Linked DNA regions of Homo sapiens: region 2 is linked to region 1. Evidence: fine-mapped expression QTL. Tissue or cell type: fibroblasts. Region 1 holds a variant in brackets; the other region holds the start of a gene. All regions are shown on one strand. Distances are between the middles of the regions. Region 1 overlaps MLLT3 (MLLT3 super elongation complex subunit). Region 2 holds the start of MLLT3 (MLLT3 super elongation complex subunit).

What was found.
Region 2: it holds the start of MLLT3, and the variant in region 1 is fine-mapped to the expression of MLLT3 in fibroblasts (GTEx, PIP above 0.99).

What each region holds. Positions count from the first base shown.
Region 1 is chr9:20,594,456-20,602,455 of GRCh38, forward strand. The region is part of intron 2 of MLLT3 (MLLT3 super elongation complex subunit); the gene reads right to left. Among named protein-coding and RNA genes, the nearest start is that of MLLT3, 24 kb to the right of the region's middle. The variant C/T (reference allele first, on the strand shown) is at 4,972.
Region 2 is chr9:20,618,554-20,627,316 of GRCh38, forward strand. MLLT3 (MLLT3 super elongation complex subunit) reads right to left here and starts at 3,946. Exons shown (of 11, transcript NM_004529.4): 1 at 3,692-3,946; 2 at 2,101-2,281. The coding sequence starts at 3,703. RefSeq lists silencers at 1,895-2,014, 3,235-3,284, 3,355-3,504, 3,925-4,384, 4,405-4,544 and an enhancer at 2,175-2,304.

The sequences.
Region 1 (8,000 bases):
TTAAGGGTTCTCTTATAAAAGGGAGGGGGGCAATATGTCAGAGGTGTTTGAACCAGAGCAAGTCCATGTTGAATAGGGGCTGGGTAAAATAAGGCTGAGAATTACTGGGCTACATTCCCAGAAGATTAAGGCAGTCTTAGTCACAGGATAAGACAAAAGGTTGGCACAAGACATAGGTCATAAAGACCCTGCTTACAAAACAGACTGAGGTAAAGAAGTCAGCCAAAACCCGCCAAAACCCACCAAAACCAAGAAGGCGATGAAAGTGACCTTTGGTCATCCTCACTGCTCACTATATGCTAATTATAACGCATTAGCATGGTAAAAGACACTCCCACCAATGCCAAGATAGTTTACAAATGCCACAGCAATGTCAGGAAGTTCCCCTGTATGGTCCAAAAAGGAGAGGAACCCTCAGTTCCAGGAATTGCCCAGCCCCTTCCCATAAAACTCATGAATAATCCACCCCTTGTTTAGCATATAATCAAGAAATAACCATAAAAATGTCCAAACAGCAGCTCATACTGCTGCTCTGCCTATGGAGTAGCCATTCTTTTGTTTCTTTACTTCTCTAATAAACTTACTTTCACTTAAAAAAAAAATTACTGGGCATGGGGGTTGCAGGGTGCCGTGGCTCACAACTGTCATCCCAGCACTTTGAGAGGCCAATTCGGGAGGACTATTTGAGCCAAGGAGTTCAAGACCAGCCTAGGCAACAAAGTGAGATCTCCATCTCTACAAAAAGAAGAAGAAAAGAAAAAATTAGCCAGGCATGGAGGTGTGTGCCTGTGGATCCAGCTACACAAGAGGCTGAGACAGGAGGATCGCTTGATCCCAGGAGACTGAGGCAGCAGTGAATCGTCTTCATACATACCACTGCACTCCAGCCTGAGTGACAGAGCAAGACCCTATCTCAAAAAACAATAAAATAAAATAAAAATTACTGGAAAAATAAGGTTATATTACTTTATAATTTATATTATAATTTTATATTACCACATACTTCACTAAGTTATCCATAAAATCAGACACAGGAAACATTTGTCACAATATAAAATTTTGTCAAAACCATAAACAGGAAAAATAGAATAGATCCTGTATCTATCATTTGAAACATAAGCGTTATCAAAGAAGGAAAATCACCAATTTGCAACCCCAATAAAATAGTTAATTCAAGCTCATCAAAAAAAGATCAGCAGTAGATGCTAAGACCATTAGAGAAAAGATTATTGTAGCACATGACGTTTGAAAGATACAAAGTGTCATAATGCTAGTAGCAGTAACCACAAAAAAAGAAAGACACGATTTTATATAAAAAGTCTTATCAGATTCTTTTCCTCTACTTTTTATCCCTCACAAAAGCACATATACTATCTGAATCCCACTGTAAAAAGAAGTCCGGGAAATCTGTTACCATTTCTCTACCTAGCTCTGTCCAATACGGCAGCCACTAGCTACCCATGACTGTTAAGTCCTCAAATGTGGCAAGTGACTGAGGAATTAAATGTTTTATTTTAAATAATTTAAATTTTAAAAGCCACATATGTCTAGTGGCTATTGTTTTAGACAGTACTGCTGCAGGGTATAAACAAACCTAGCCATGAAAGACAATATAAAAAGTCACAAGCTTAAATTATGGGCAGGCTTAAGGGAAAACTTGAAAAACTTATAAAACTATTTTATAAGCTTTTATCACCAGATAATTCTGTATCAGGAATTGCCTCCATTGAACTTTCTTATAGCATGTTTTCTTGACTACAAAAAATAAATGCTGAATAAAAGCTTGCGGAATTAAATTTATAAAGCTTTAAACCTACCCCAAAACACTGAATTACCAGGAAAACTATGGCATTTAATTAAATGTATAGGAGTACCCTGATTTAAGACGTCCCTATTTTCATGACTGATTTTTAAAAACTGATTTGCAGTTTTCATTTAAAATAATAAGCTCTGGCCAGGCATGGTGGCACACGCCTATAATCCCAGCACTTTGGGAGGCCAAGGCAGGCGGATCACCTGAGGTCAGGAGTTCAAGACCAGCCTGGCCAACATGGTGAGACCTTGTCTCTACTAAAAATACAAAAAATTAGCTGGGCATGGTGGTGCATGCCTGTAGTCCCAGTTACTTGAGAGGCTGAGGCATGAGAATCGCTTGAGCCCAGGAGCTGGAGGTTGCAATGAGCTGAGATGTGCCACTGCACTCCAGCCTGGGCTGGGCCACAAAGCAAGACTCCATCTCAAAAAATAAATAAATAAAATAAAATAATAAGCTGCTTGAAAACATTAAAAATGTAGTCTCACTCACAAAATATTATTATGGGTCCCTTGCAATTACACATTAATTTTAAATCAGCTTGTCAATTTACAAAGAAGCCAGTTGGAGTTCTGACTGATAGGGACTGTATGTAACCTGAAGCAATTTGGGGGAGTATTGCCATCGTAATATTAAGTCTCCCAATCCATGAACATGGAATATTTTTTCATTTATTTAAATAGTCCTCTATTTCTTTCAACAATGTTTTGTAGTTTCACAGCACAAATTTCACATCTGTTTTGTTAAATGTGTTCCTAAGTATTTTACTCTTTTTGATGCTATTATAAATAAAATTGTTTCCTTAATTTCATTTTCAGATTGTTCATTGCAAGTACGTAGAAATACTATCTTTTTATACTAATCTTGTATGCTATAACCTTGATAAATTCATCCATTATGGGGATAGTACAGGTAGTACCTCAATTCATAGGGATCATTAGACTAATAAGGTAATTATTGGAGAGTACCCAGTACTCAGCCTGGCACACAGTAGGCCACTGAAGTACTTTTATTTATCTAGGGCCTTACAAAGGTGTCTTACTATAAAGTTGTTATTTAATACCACTTATGTGCAAAGGTCTGAGTAACACAGTGACTTAAAAAAAAAAAAAATCCTGTCCATAAGGAGCTAGAGGTCTTACTGCAGAAATAGATCATCCTTGTCCCACAAGTAATTTGTATAGACATCATATTAAAAATCTGAATAAGATTTCCTTTACAACAAATTTACCTTCATATACTGTTAAGAGCCTCAGAAGACCATCTACTTTTCAACCATACAAATGAGGTTCATCCCTCCTTCTTCTTACTATGTTTATTACTAGATTCTTCCATAACTCTTCTGAACACCAGTATTACTGCAGAGTGGTGTCATGTATTGCACTTGACCAATAAGATAAGAAAGTTTTAGCGTCTTGTAATTACTAGCTTTGTTTTTTCTTTCTGTGAAGCCTATTTCATGCTTTTGAATTTTCAGAAGAGAAACAAAAAGAAATGGAAAATAAAAGGAGTAAGAGATTACAATAAGTAAGGTTCCTATAGAACTGCAGTCACCAATTCTGCCATTCTATAGAAGCTTACTAATATTTTTTAACTAAAACAATTTTTTTCCAAATAGTTCTTTAAACTTAGATATCTGCTTAGTGTTCCAAAGCACCATTTAAAATCAACCAGGTCCTGTTTCTGTCTCAGCAACATTTGCTTTACTTCTAAATAATTGTTAATTTACATTTATTTGTTGGAAGAAAGACAGCCACAACCTAACAAACCACAATTTGTGCCACAAAGTCTAATCTTAGCCCAGATCTATTTTTGGATTCATAACAGCTTGAGCTAAAGAAGAATTTCATTACATTGTTCAAGTTGGGTCATAAACAGTCTCTGAAAAGAGAAGCAAACCAACATAAAATGCTGTAGAAACCAAAAATGATATAAAATATGAAAGATTCAGGTTCAAACATCTGCTATATAAATGGAAACATTACTGTGCTCATCTTCAATCTCTACTTACCACTTTATGTTCCCAAAAAACTCCGTTCCTACCAAACTATAACTTATTTAAATTACACTGAAATTTATCCACTTACAAATCTATCTCCCCTTCGCCCCACATATGAGTCTCTGAGGGCAGAGAAGCCATATGTCTAACTAGATGTGTAAATTTGGAAGAGAAGTAGGATGTGCAACATAAGGCATTTCCATCCCACCCCAATAACCATCCAACCTGTAAGTTCTCAAAAATGGCTTTAGTTTTGCTTTTATCATTCTAACAGTTGCCATTAGTCATTCTTTAGGTGAGGACACTACAGCCTTCAGTGAAGCACTGCTCAGACAGTATATAAGACAAATGACACAAAACAAAATAAAGTTATCTAATTACCAGAAGTGATGATCAGTAAACTGAATCCATCTAAGTTTTAGCTAATTTACCTGATAGACAGTACACTTCTAAAACTACCTTTATGAAGTGCTGAGCTATTTAAGTGAAACCAAATAAAGGTGATTCACTCAAAAGCTGTCCAGAAAACCTGGTGGCAATGCTAATCAATTTAAGCAAATCACAACATAAGTTTCCAATTTTCTTTTCCAAATTAGAGTTACTTTCCTCAAACCCTATTCTGCTGCTTTAGGCTTCTGATTAGGTTAAGAAAGGGAAACAAAAATTAAAGGGAAAAGCACAATATTCAATGATTAAGAGATGTGCCAAATTTCCACGTATCCAGAGGACTCAAATCATTAGAATTTTCTTTGAGTAGGCCAGGCGCGGTGGCTCACGCCTGTAATCCCAGTACTTTGGGAGGCCAAGGCGGGCAGATCACGAGGTCAAGAGATCGAGACCATGCTAGCCAACATGGTGAAACCCTGTCTCTACTAAAAATACAAAAATTAGCTGGGCATGGTGGCACGCGCCTGCAGTCCCAGCTACTCAGGAAGCTGAGACAGGAGAATCACTTGAACCAGGGAGATGGAGGTTGCAGTGAGCCAAGATCGTGCCACTGCACGTCAGCCTGGGCGACAGAGTAAGACTCTGTCTCCAAAAAAAAAAAAAAAAGAGAATTTTCTTTGAGTATCATGCAATGATGACTAATATTTATAAATACAATCCTAAGACATAAAGTTCCTCAAATGCCTTCAGAATTTCTGAAGGAAAACTAAAT[C/T]ACATTCTGAAACAATTAGTAACCAGATGTTTAAAAAAAAAAAAAAAAGGTAGCATGAAACCTCTCATGTTTCTCCCCATTGTCCATGGTAAACATAACCAAGAACTGAATATTGTACTAAGCCAGACTTAGGCCTCAGAATCCTTCTCATTAGACCAACCTAAAAGTAGAGATATGACCTAGAAGCATGGTATAAACAGAGTAAAACAGTGATGAGCTTAGGACTTGGAGTCAAAAGGCCTGAGTTTAAATCTTAGTTATGCCACTCTAAAAAAGGGTGACTATATAATCTATCATCCAAAGAGCAATAGTTCTGACACCAACACAGGACAATAGGTATATACTTGGACTGTCCTCAGCAAAACAGGACATAGAGTCACCATATTCATAGGCCACATGGACCATGGGCAAGTTAGTTAATCTTCAGTCTTGGATGCCACGTCTGTAAAATAACAAGGTGTAAAATTAAACCTTCAGTAACTATAAATTGCTTAGCTTTCTTCTTTTTTCACCTATATAATATTATATTGTACGATGCTAACCCAGTGAGTTCAGAAATTGCAAGAACACTGCACTTATACAGCCTTATAAAGAGAACCCTCAAAGAGATGAAAATCCATCTTTGACAGATTCAGGATAATTTTTTTAAATCCACACTGATTCTCTTTCTTATCAAACATTTCACTTGCAATGTTGTCCAAAAAAAAAAAACAAAAAACAAAAAAAAAACACTTAGTTCAAATTCTGATACCTGGGCAGTACTAAACACTCAGAACTCTGTTTCCACAGCTTCATTTTTCATAGCTTCATAAAAGCACTCATCTTGTTGTGCTGTTATTGTGTTTGTGTGTATGGAAAACATGCCTGATGCCAGACTAAGCATTTCCAGAAGGTAAGAACCACGTCTGTTTTGTTGCTATCCTCCATGTTTACTGCAGTGCCTGGCACATAGATGGTGCTCAATGTTGGCTGAATAAGTAATCAATACTTTAGAAATACAACCCCTTCCTTAACCAACCCCAACTGGTGTACATTCTCAACCCATGAAAATATTCTGTAAGGATGTATCCTTCTTTTCCCATCTGAGTGTTCACACTCCTCAGGAATAACAGCAATCCAAATGTTTCTTCTCTATAGAGTGATGTCACCTATTTCCCGATTAAGGAACCCACCTTGAAATCCAACTAGATTTTAGGCTTTTGGGAGATTCCCATTTTAAATCCTTACTCAGAAGCTTCTGATCCTTCACACACCATCTTAAACCTTACTCTTCTTTCAAAGCCAGAACTGACTGCCTGAACACCCAATTATCTCCACCCATTTCCACTTCTTTTATCCTACCCCAGTGAACTATTTTCATCCAGCCATAACTATAGAGCCTTCCCCTAGAAAGTAAGGTATACATGACATAGATCACTCTACTTATTATGGGAGAATCAGAATCCAATGGGAAAAAATTTAAACCAAAGCAAATTAATACAGTCAAAATTCAACGGCACCTTCAATGGTAAAATGGCTTTAAATTGTGACAAAGCCCCAGGGGTCCCTAAGGCATTTCTAGGGTTTCTTTAAATAAAAAAAAAGTGTAGTCAATCACAGACATGTTTGCTTTTTCTCTGCACCGTTGCCCCCAGACTCAGATTGCTCTAGGGGCTGGGGTTTGGAGGCAAAACAATGAAGCATTTGACAACGTCAAAACGTCAGAATGACATTCTGGAAACAAACTTCACTTTGGGCTACCCACTTAAGTAGAGACATACCATGATACACTGCCCACCTTTAGTTCAGAATATTCTCCAGGTGAGAGGAACAAATAATTAAGGCGTTTTGTATTCAAAAAGATGTCTCTGGCTTCCAGATCAAAAATAGTCATAGAAAGTAGAAAGTTTATTCTGCGTGTTTCTAAAAAAACACATGAAAACTTACCTAGCAAAGTCTCACACTTCACTATAATAAATGATCTGCAACTGACTGTGGAAAATATGTAACTTTTATATGGAAAAATACTTAGCTGTAGCAACAGCAGACTGTTCTTACCCCAAGCTAAATAACAACAGCAATATGAAACTGTAAATGTCTACTAAGATAGAGTTGGAAACTTTGTGACTCCACTATCCCTCCTCCCCCAGAGTTTCTTTTGCTCCACAAAAATAATTTTAGTCAGATGGGAATAGGGAAAAAACTGCAAACAGAAAGAAGTGTAGTTTCAATGTGAGTACAATATTGAGTGTCCTGAAAGCAGACAGATCCTCAATAATGTAGCTTCAATAAAAACTTCCTAAACCCTTTCTTTTTTTGTTCCTTTGAGAAAATGAAGCAATTTGCATTTACAGCTTAGTTCCTGTTTCCAAAATATCCCTTTAACTTTTTCTTTTCTCTTTTTATGGTGGGTATAAATAGCACCAAATTGTCAAATCACAGCTATTTTGTGTGCTACCTATACAAATAGGTCTGATTTCTGGCCAGTCATAAAACAATTACTGCTGAATTCCTCTGGCTCTTTGATATCCAGCTTGTCCACCGGGCTTCAAAGCTAGACTCCAGGACTTTTCTTGGGGCACTGCTGAAAAACAACCTCAACAGAAACACAGAAGATAAAATGTTCCCACTCCTATAAACACACAAAGATATAATCCCAGAAGTAAAACAATTCAGCAGCACTGTGGTGGGTTCTTCCCCCTCACGATAATTTAAGAGTACAAGTATTTTAAATTATTTTTTAGCGATATGAATCAATGAGAACTTCTTCCCGCTAACTCGTATGGCTATTTTCTCCATTTTCAAGCCTCCAAAAATTAAGAATTACTTTGCTTTCAGAGAAATTTTCTGATTTACTAAAATAACTTATCCCATGGGAACTTACTGGGATGGAATGAAAGTTCAGCTTCTTAAGCACATAAATAACTATACAGCATAGTATTTATTCAATGTAGCAAAACTCATTCAAGCTAGAAGCTTTCAATAAGGTTAAATGTGGTCAGAATTTCAATAAAGGAATTGTATGTATGGGCAAATTATATGTTTTGACT
Region 2 (8,763 bases), 24 kb after region 1:
TTTAAAACAATGGCTTATAGACTGCATAGAGAACCTCCACAGTTGAGTATAAAAATTGAGGAATCCAACCAACAAGCAGACATCTCTCACCAGAGACCTCTGAGAAGTCATCACTGCTATCAAGCAGCTTACCACGCCTAGCAACAACTCCCAGGTGTGGCCTATGTGAGCAGCACCCTCATGTTCCCTCAGGGCAGACAGAAAATCATTAAGTATAGGAAATAAAAATAACATCAATGCACACATCCACTGAAGCAGAAAAACAATGGTAAAATAGAGGTTGATCATCTTTAATTTCATAATGCCAATTTGTTGATTGTCAAGGTGCCTAAACAAAGTTACCTTAAGAGCTACATCTTCTGCCAACTGAGTTAATTTTCCTAATAAATGTTGCTTTTTAAAAGCTTATTTCACCTTGAAGTGAACTGCAGCCAAGTAGTAGTAATAATGTGTACCAAGGATCTTAGAAAGTGGTTTCTTTTGTTTAAACTCCTCTGCTCTACAGACACATGGAAAGGGAGAGAGAGAATCCGAGAAGCAGCATATCAACCTCATCAGCGATAGAAATTTGACATCGCTCATCCTTACCACAGTTTGGAGGAAATATGAAATATAATAATCTCTGACTATATTTTAACATAAAATGCTAACAAATTTCAAATGTTATTTCCTATAGGCCATGCATATTTCTAGCCCTCTATAAGAAACTGGATTTATTTATTAACCATCCAACAAAGACCATCAAATTCAACCGTTCAAGTTTTCAGGAGGAGTTATAAACCAAACCACTAAAGGCAAAAAATACAATCCTACTTCCCATTACATGAGCTCTGGAAACAAAACTAAGCACCAATACAAACCTCTGCCACCTCTAAGGCACACGACGCTTCTCCTTTCTTTATTCAGCCCCCTGAATGTTCAATAATTTCCACACAGCTCTAAGCAGAATGGATTTATTATGATATTACTCTAAGAAACGACAGGAGTTCTAGATGCCAATAAAGATTACGGATCAAATGGAAGATAACTACTAACCATTGTGTCGACTTAGATAAATAAACCTGCTCACAAACAAAGCACCTTATTGTATTTGTACTGTTACCTTCACTAATCCAACTAAAACAACCAGACATTAGTTTTCCAGAGGTTGAAGGGAAAAGAAATCGGTATTTCTCAAACCCTCTTTAAATTTCTTTCAAAATGACACTCCGTTTCTTTTTTCCAAAACTGTCCTGCCCATTATGGAAAATGTTTGGGACCACAGAGGCCCAGTAGGATTATGCAAACTAGACTCCAAGGCTAAGAACCAAGGTGGGGAGGGACTAAAGCAAAAGGCTTCCTCCACATCGTTCCTCTTCAACTTAGCTTCGACCTTTGCAAGAACAGTCTCCCTGCAGATCACATCCGGCAGACACTTTGGAACGTTGCTCAGAATCAAAGGAGCAGTCAAGTGGCACGCGGGGGTGGGAGGGAGGAACGAGTAAGCCCCCCAAGTAAACATAAAATCCAGACTGGAGTGGGTGTGGCGGTGGCTAAGCCACAAAAAGAAAAGTCTATGGCAACTGGCACCTGGTGCCTCATACACAGACAGGAAAGCACAGAAGACCCTAAAGAGAACCGACTTGCCAAGACCGAACAATAACTACATCCAATACATTCTTTGCTAATAACACAGGTAAATCTTAATTTCTCTAGGAAAACACACACACACACACACACACACACACACACACACACACACGCGCAAAGTGTTTATTCCCTCCAGCCCGATTCCCCACATCTCCAAACTCAACAACTAATTGCACCTTCCCCACAGAACCCGCGGCTAACCCCAGAGGACTGGTGAGGGCTGGCTTGGGATGAATAAACACTCGACACCTGACGGTCCTTTCTCTGCGGTGACTTTCACCAAGCCGAAGTGGCGCGCGCGCGGGCAGGCGGGAGCCGGGACCTGGCCCGCGCGGCGCCGCGCACCCGGATCCCGAGGCTACGCCGGCGAGCGCGGCGCGGGGGGCGGGGAGCGGGACAGCGGGACCGCCCGGGCCAAGCGATTGTTTCAAAGACATTTTTTATCAAGACCCTTTTGTATTCGAGCCCTACCTCTTTTTGGCCTAGGAAAGCTTTCGTGCAAGTGGAAGACGACTTTCTCCACAAAGTGCTGTATGTTACTGTGCTCCGGACCGCGTACGAACACCATCCAGTCGTGGGTGAAGCCCTCCACGGTGGGTTTTTTCCTCACCTGGGCGCGGTGCCCCAGCTCCAGCTTCACCTGCACGGCACACTGCGGGCAGGGGGAGGAGAGACAGCCGTGAATAACAGGAAGGCGAGGTTTCGGCAGTGAACGTTGCGCCTGACATTTTTTTCCTCCTTCTTGAAACGCACATAAAAGGAAACGGCGGTGCCCTCTGCATCCACGTTTCACGCGCGTGGGCGCGCACACTCCACACCCCCAAATATACCCGCCCGCCCGGCCCGGCTTGGCCCCAGGCGCCCCGGGCCCCGCATCTACATCGGACAGGATTGTAACGGAATGTTATCCCCAGTCGGGAAGGGGGTCGGGGAAAAGAGGGAGAACACACTCAGCCACGACAAGCACGACAACAAATGCATCGGAAACAAATCAGAAGGCGATGCCGGGGCGGTTTCCCGGCGTGGGAGGGGAGGTGGCTGGGACCCAGGGGGACCGAAGGGCTCCTGGCGAGCCCCCTCCCCGAAAGTACCGCGGCGACAGGCACACGCCGAGGAAGTCTTTGTGTACGTGTGTGTGCGTGCGTGTGGAGCGCTGTGCCAGGCGAAATGGAAACTACAGGCAGCCTCTGCTGATGGGCACAAACTCCCGTGCTCTTGCCACGGGGTTCGTGCACAACAAAAATGAGACGTCGTCATACACACTGAAACACACACACACGCCCGCAGGAAAACACGCCGAGGCATCCATAACTTAGAGCACCCCGCACCCCCCAGCGAAAAGCCCCACGCGATCGGCGAGGCCAGTCGAACCGAGCCCCCGCAACACACTTTCAAGAGCCCAAGTGGCTCCAAAGTATCTCCCACCTCCCCCCAAAAAATGAAATTCAGAAAGGCAGGGCGGCGGGCGGACAGCCGCCGAGCCTCGGCTCGCGCTCAGCACCTCCCGGCGCTGGGGCAAAGTTGCGTGCGGCCCCGCCGCTGTCAGCCCCGCACACTTCGGCTCACACACGCGCGCCGCGGAGAACGCACCATCGTAGCGGCCGCGGCGCTTTGCGGAGGTGCGGCCGCCGAGGCTGCTCGCCGCGTCCCCGGACTGTGCCCGCAGCTCCCGGCGGCGGCGGCTGAAATATGGCTGAGTTATTATTCGCCTCCTTCCACCGTGTGTGTGTGTGTGTGTGAGTGCGCGCGTGTGAGCGAGAGGGAGTGTGTGAGTGCGCTTCTTGTGACTGCAAAGAGGCGAGGAGGGAGGGAGGCGCGGGGGGTGGAGGGGCGAGTGTGAGCGTGTGTGAGTGTGTGTGTGTCTGTGTGTCTGTGTGCGCGCCGGGGGGGGGTGGGGGAGGAGGGGAGCGGAGGCTGAGGGAGAGGCGGCAGCTCCCTGCAAGCCGTACCAACCTTTCTCTAATTGGAACCGCGGAGCGCTGGCGCTGTCTGGGCTGCGGCGGCGCAGGGCGAGGAAGGAAAGTGGGGGAGGGCTTTTATTATTATTTTTGCGCGTACTTACCGAGCTAGCCATGCCTGGGGGCCCGGAGGTTTGCTGGGGTGTTGTGTGGTACCCCCCCCTCCTCCGCCCCCCCTCAGCTGTAATTCATGAAGAGGCTGCTATGAATGAGAGCGCGCCCAGGAGCGGAGGGTAGATGGCGGACATTCTCTGCCTTTTTCCCCCCGCGCTCGCTTGCTCGCTCGCTCGCTTATTAAACTCAGCCCCAAAAGCAAAAGCAGCAGCAGCAGCAGCAGCTCCAGGGTAAAGAAGATGATTGCGGAGCATGCGCCGTGGCGCCTGACACCCGGGCTCCGAGCCTCACAGGGCGGAGGGAGGGCTTGCGGGCGGGGCGGAGCGCGCGGGGAGGCAGAGCGAGCGAGCCAGGGGGAGCTCGAAAGAGCCAATCACCTGCCACCTCCCGAAACCCCGGCGGCCCGCAGCGCCACACTGGAAAGCCTCGCTTAAAGTAACAGGTTCCTGCTGGGGGGGTGGCAGGGAGGGGACGCAGGAGTGGGGAGAGCGGCCAGCTGGGGAGCCATCCCAGCCCCTGTGTAAACTCTGCTCGCCCTACAATAAAAAACGGATTAAAACTGCTGGAATGTAGCCACTGCTTAGAGCCCTCAGCAGCCGGAGAGGGGGTGTTAAATCAAGTCCTTAGCTAGTACGCACGGGGAGGAGGGAGTGGGCTTTCTTTTACTTTCCACCACGTATTTCTGTGGTTTTGTGCTGAAAAGACAAGAACTCACACCCAAACAAACTTACTTAAAGAGAGCGAGAGAAATGCCATCCTGCAAAAAACGAGCATGAAAATAGCAATGACTGAGGCTGTTCTAACCCGCAACGATCCCCTGGCCCCCTGCCCCATCCACTCACAGGCACCCGCCCGCCACCCTCACTCCCCGCCCTTCTGCCACCGCCACCGAAAATTTGAAAATGAAATGAACAAGGGAGAAACAAGGATGCTATTTCCTTGCAAGGGAACGCCTTCCGCTTTGGTAATCCCCGGCTGGGAAGCTTCATAAAGCGGTGCCCAGGTGAAAGCAAGACACCTGGGAGTGCCGGGTACAGACCCTCGGGGACCAGGCTTGGAGTTGTTTTCTTCGGGGGGCTTCCCCTCCTGACAGCCTACTGAGTTGCATCAGAACGTGGAGGATTGTCCTCTGAGGACGCGCGGGGCAACCGGGAGTCTTAAAATAGCAGATAAAGTTAATACTGACTGTAATGTGCGTAAATTGGATTATAATCTTTAGGCGTATTGGTGACAACCAGCGTAATCCATCTCTGAGTATTAATCCGGTTAGACTCCCGGGTGACAGCCAGTCGCAGGAGTGTTCCCAGAGTCGCGCCTCTGCAAATGTTCTCACTCGCGTTGTATTTGATCTCAGTGGCCGGAGATAGAACAGCGCGGCCACGCGTGGGGCGCGGAGAGGAGTATCAACTACTGGCTTCCTTTACAGACGCAGATAACCTTTAAAAAGGAAACGGATAAGATCTAGACGATTGATTTGAAAGTGAAAGATGGATGTGACTTTGGTTCGTTAAAAAAAGATCCTTGCATCTTCCTAGCCCTTAGACCTCTTTTGCCTTCTCTTTACTCCCCTTTTTCCCTCGCCTTCCAACTTCTTGCTGAACCTTGATTTTTCCTTCTCTTCTCCTTGCCTTTCCTCTTTGTCCCTCTTTCTTTCCTCTTTGTCCCTTTCTTTCCTCTTTGTCCCTTTCTTTCCTCTTTGTCCCTCTTCCTCTTTCTGACTGAACTTCCTTGCTTTCCTCTTTTCCCTTTACTTCCCTTTTCCACAAAAGCAAGTTGTCTCGGCCCTTGAATTGAGAAGAGCAGAATAGCGGGGAGGACGTTACCTAGGGCGTCCTGTGTCCTCGCTGTTAATTTTCAGTTCTCCCAGCAGCTCTCACAAAGATCCTGGGAATCAGGTCGGACCACTTGGAACCAACCTTAGTTTCCAAACCAGCAGCCTTCCAACTCAACTTTTGATTCCCTAAAACTGATATTCCGCTGCCTGTCAGTTATAATCAAGAAACTTCTTTGGCTTGAGGTCCCCAGTTCTTCCCAGCCTTCTACAGGATTTAGCATAGAATGGAGCAAACGACTGAAGGTAGAAACATTTTAATCTAAATCCAAGGGCTTAGATTTGTCAACTGACACACATATACATAACTGCATATCATCCTGTAGGTATATGCGTCGCTGTGTCTGTATGTATGTACAAGGACTACGTTTATATTCGCAGAGACAAGCTGTGTGGGTAGTATCTACGTGAAGGGGGGACCTATTTATTGTGCATTATTAAACTTTTCATAAAATAATCAAATTTGAGAGCAGTCCTTTGTAATAATAGTATTGGAAACTAAAGGTTATCTGGACGTGCCATTAGTAAAGCCATTTCTTATTAAGAAGTAACCATTAACAGCGAGTGTAGCTCAGGACACAGGCAAAAAACAACAATCCCATTCCCCGTTTGAGTTCATTTCAGGGTTTAACTTCTTCCGGCGCCAGCCACCGGACTCTCTTGAGATTGTCTCCAAAACTTGTACCCGCACAACAGATAGAGGTCTCTTTTTTGAATTATGTGTTTGCTGAATTCAGATTTATTCCAGCAATCACTAATAAGCCATAGAGTCTGAAAGGGTATTTTCCCAGTACCCCTCCTTCCTCAAAGAATGCTCTAACAACCCAACGTAGTTACTCCCAATCTCCAAATACTGGACATTTAGATTCCGTCAGTAGATGGCGCACGGAGCTCTTCCACGGACGTCCTTACGTGACCCCTTCACAACAAAAAGATCAGGAAGGGGGAGAAAAGAAAGAAAAGAAAACACAAGACTGAATACTCTCCCTTCAACTTTGGACAAAGAAATTTATGCAAGTCTGTCAATTTATTAATTACAACCTATTTTAATAAGCTTGCCATTAAAAACAATTAAAATCGATTAATTTCCTGTGCAGATCTTCACACTTTAACGTGAGGTAAAAATGTGGAAAATAACCTTTTGTGTACTTGACAATGTGGTTATAGAAAATGTACTGTAAAGAAATTTTAAGACAAACTTCAGTGCTAAATACAGAAATAGTAATATAATAACTAAAATGGAAGTGGTGAGGGATAAAATCATCTACTTATCCAAAGAATAATTATCTTACCAAAATTCATACTGTTGTATATAGCACAGTATGAAGCACCATGGGGTTAGTTTGAAGATCAGAAAAGTAATTAACATATCAAATAAAAATCGTGATGAAGAATAAAAGAGAACAGTGTCTGTGACAGATCACTACCACCACTACCATCACCATTGCCCTACCACCATCATTTTGGCTCCAGCCTTTTTATTTGCAATTGTTTTCTTTAGTCTGGAAGCTAAAGCCAGTTTCCATGTTTCTGGCAGAACAAAGAGAGGGCCTTTAACGTGTAATTAGAGTGTTAAGGAGCATCCTAAAATAAACTTATCTATTTGTTGTGATAGATAATTGATGCACAAATTCAAATCAATAAAAATTTACCATTTATTTCCCGTCATTGCTGTATAGACTTGGGGAGAAAAGAGGAAGAAGAAGCATGGAAAAAACTAGAAAATGTGCCAGACTCTAAATAGACATTTTGCAAAAATCAGACTCAAAGTAATTAAGGATTCTTCTTCCATAATTGTGCACCTTTTTCTGTGTACTGCATCCATGTGTTTATTCACAAAATCATTCCACGTCTCAGGCAGAGAGTTAGGCCCTAAGACTGTAAGAATGACAGGATTCCTGATATCAGAGTTTATAAACCAGGGGAGAAGTTTCGCCAAAAACTTTTTTTTTTTTAAATTTCATAACAGCTAAATTTGGGATAAGATGCGTGTCATATATAAGCGAGGAGCATAGAAACCTGACATGAACAGCCCAAGGACAGGAAAAACAGTGGCATGAGATTAGAAGCCAGGAGTCATTGTCCTTAATTCCACCTTTTAATACTTAAAAGGTGGGGAGAGGCAGATATCTTTCTTGCAACAGCAGCCAGTTCCTACTTTCCTTTTTCTTGATCTGAAGTATTTTGTATGTTCACTTTTTTACAGCTCTTTTAGGGAGAAAAAAAAAAATCCCACAATGAAAGAAAGCTAAGTCTTTTCAAGATCATGAGCAATTCTCAGTTGAAATCATCTCCCCATTTCTTATGGAAATTTTTGGTTCAAAATGTTACATGTTTAACATTATATTTAATTCATGATTCTAGGATAGTGTGGGAACACTAGAATGGTAAGACTCATTACTATTTTGAAAAAAAGATTGCTTTGATAGCCGTTTGAGCACCTAGTCCAGGACTATTTCCAGAGATAAGAAATACACAGAGCTTTTTTAACCACCAGTGCCTCTTCATGTGTAAATTATTCCCTGAGAGTAATTTAAGCAATGCACTTATACATGCAGAAGACAAGAGTGCCTCCACTGTAATAATTTATTAATTTAGTGGGCTGTATCCTTAATTTAATAAGTAGCACCTCAAGGCCTGAAAATTAATCAAGGATGTCGTGTAAAACCAGCAATATGAAACAAAATAAGTATTGGGGGACAGTTGATATAGAGTGATTGAAAGAGTCTCCCTAATATATACAGGATGCTTAGTGGAATAGTTCTAGGTAAAATACATATTGAGTTGAAAATGCTTGCTGTAAAACAATCTATCTAAAAAGTAGACCAAATGACTATATCTTTATGTATCTCTGGCATCTCTTCAAACGCTACTGTGCAATGTTCCTTCTTTCTTTATGTAATGATTTGATCTCTTTTATTTTTAATGGAAATTCTGTTTGTTTTTATATATGAGTTCACCTCTCCCACTCACATATAATGAATCAGGGCTTAAAATAATCACTTTATCTTAAAATAATAAAATATATTTTGTCTTTTTGGTAAAAATGGAAAAATAACATATCAGGCCTATGAACTAATTTGGACAGCTCAAACTTCAACAAAAACTGCCAAAAACTTAGGAAAAAGAAGTAACTCCTAGCCGGGCACAGTGGCTCACGCCTGTAATCCCAGCACTTTGGGAGGCCGAGGTGGGCAGATCATGAGGTCAAGAGATCGAGACCATCCTGGC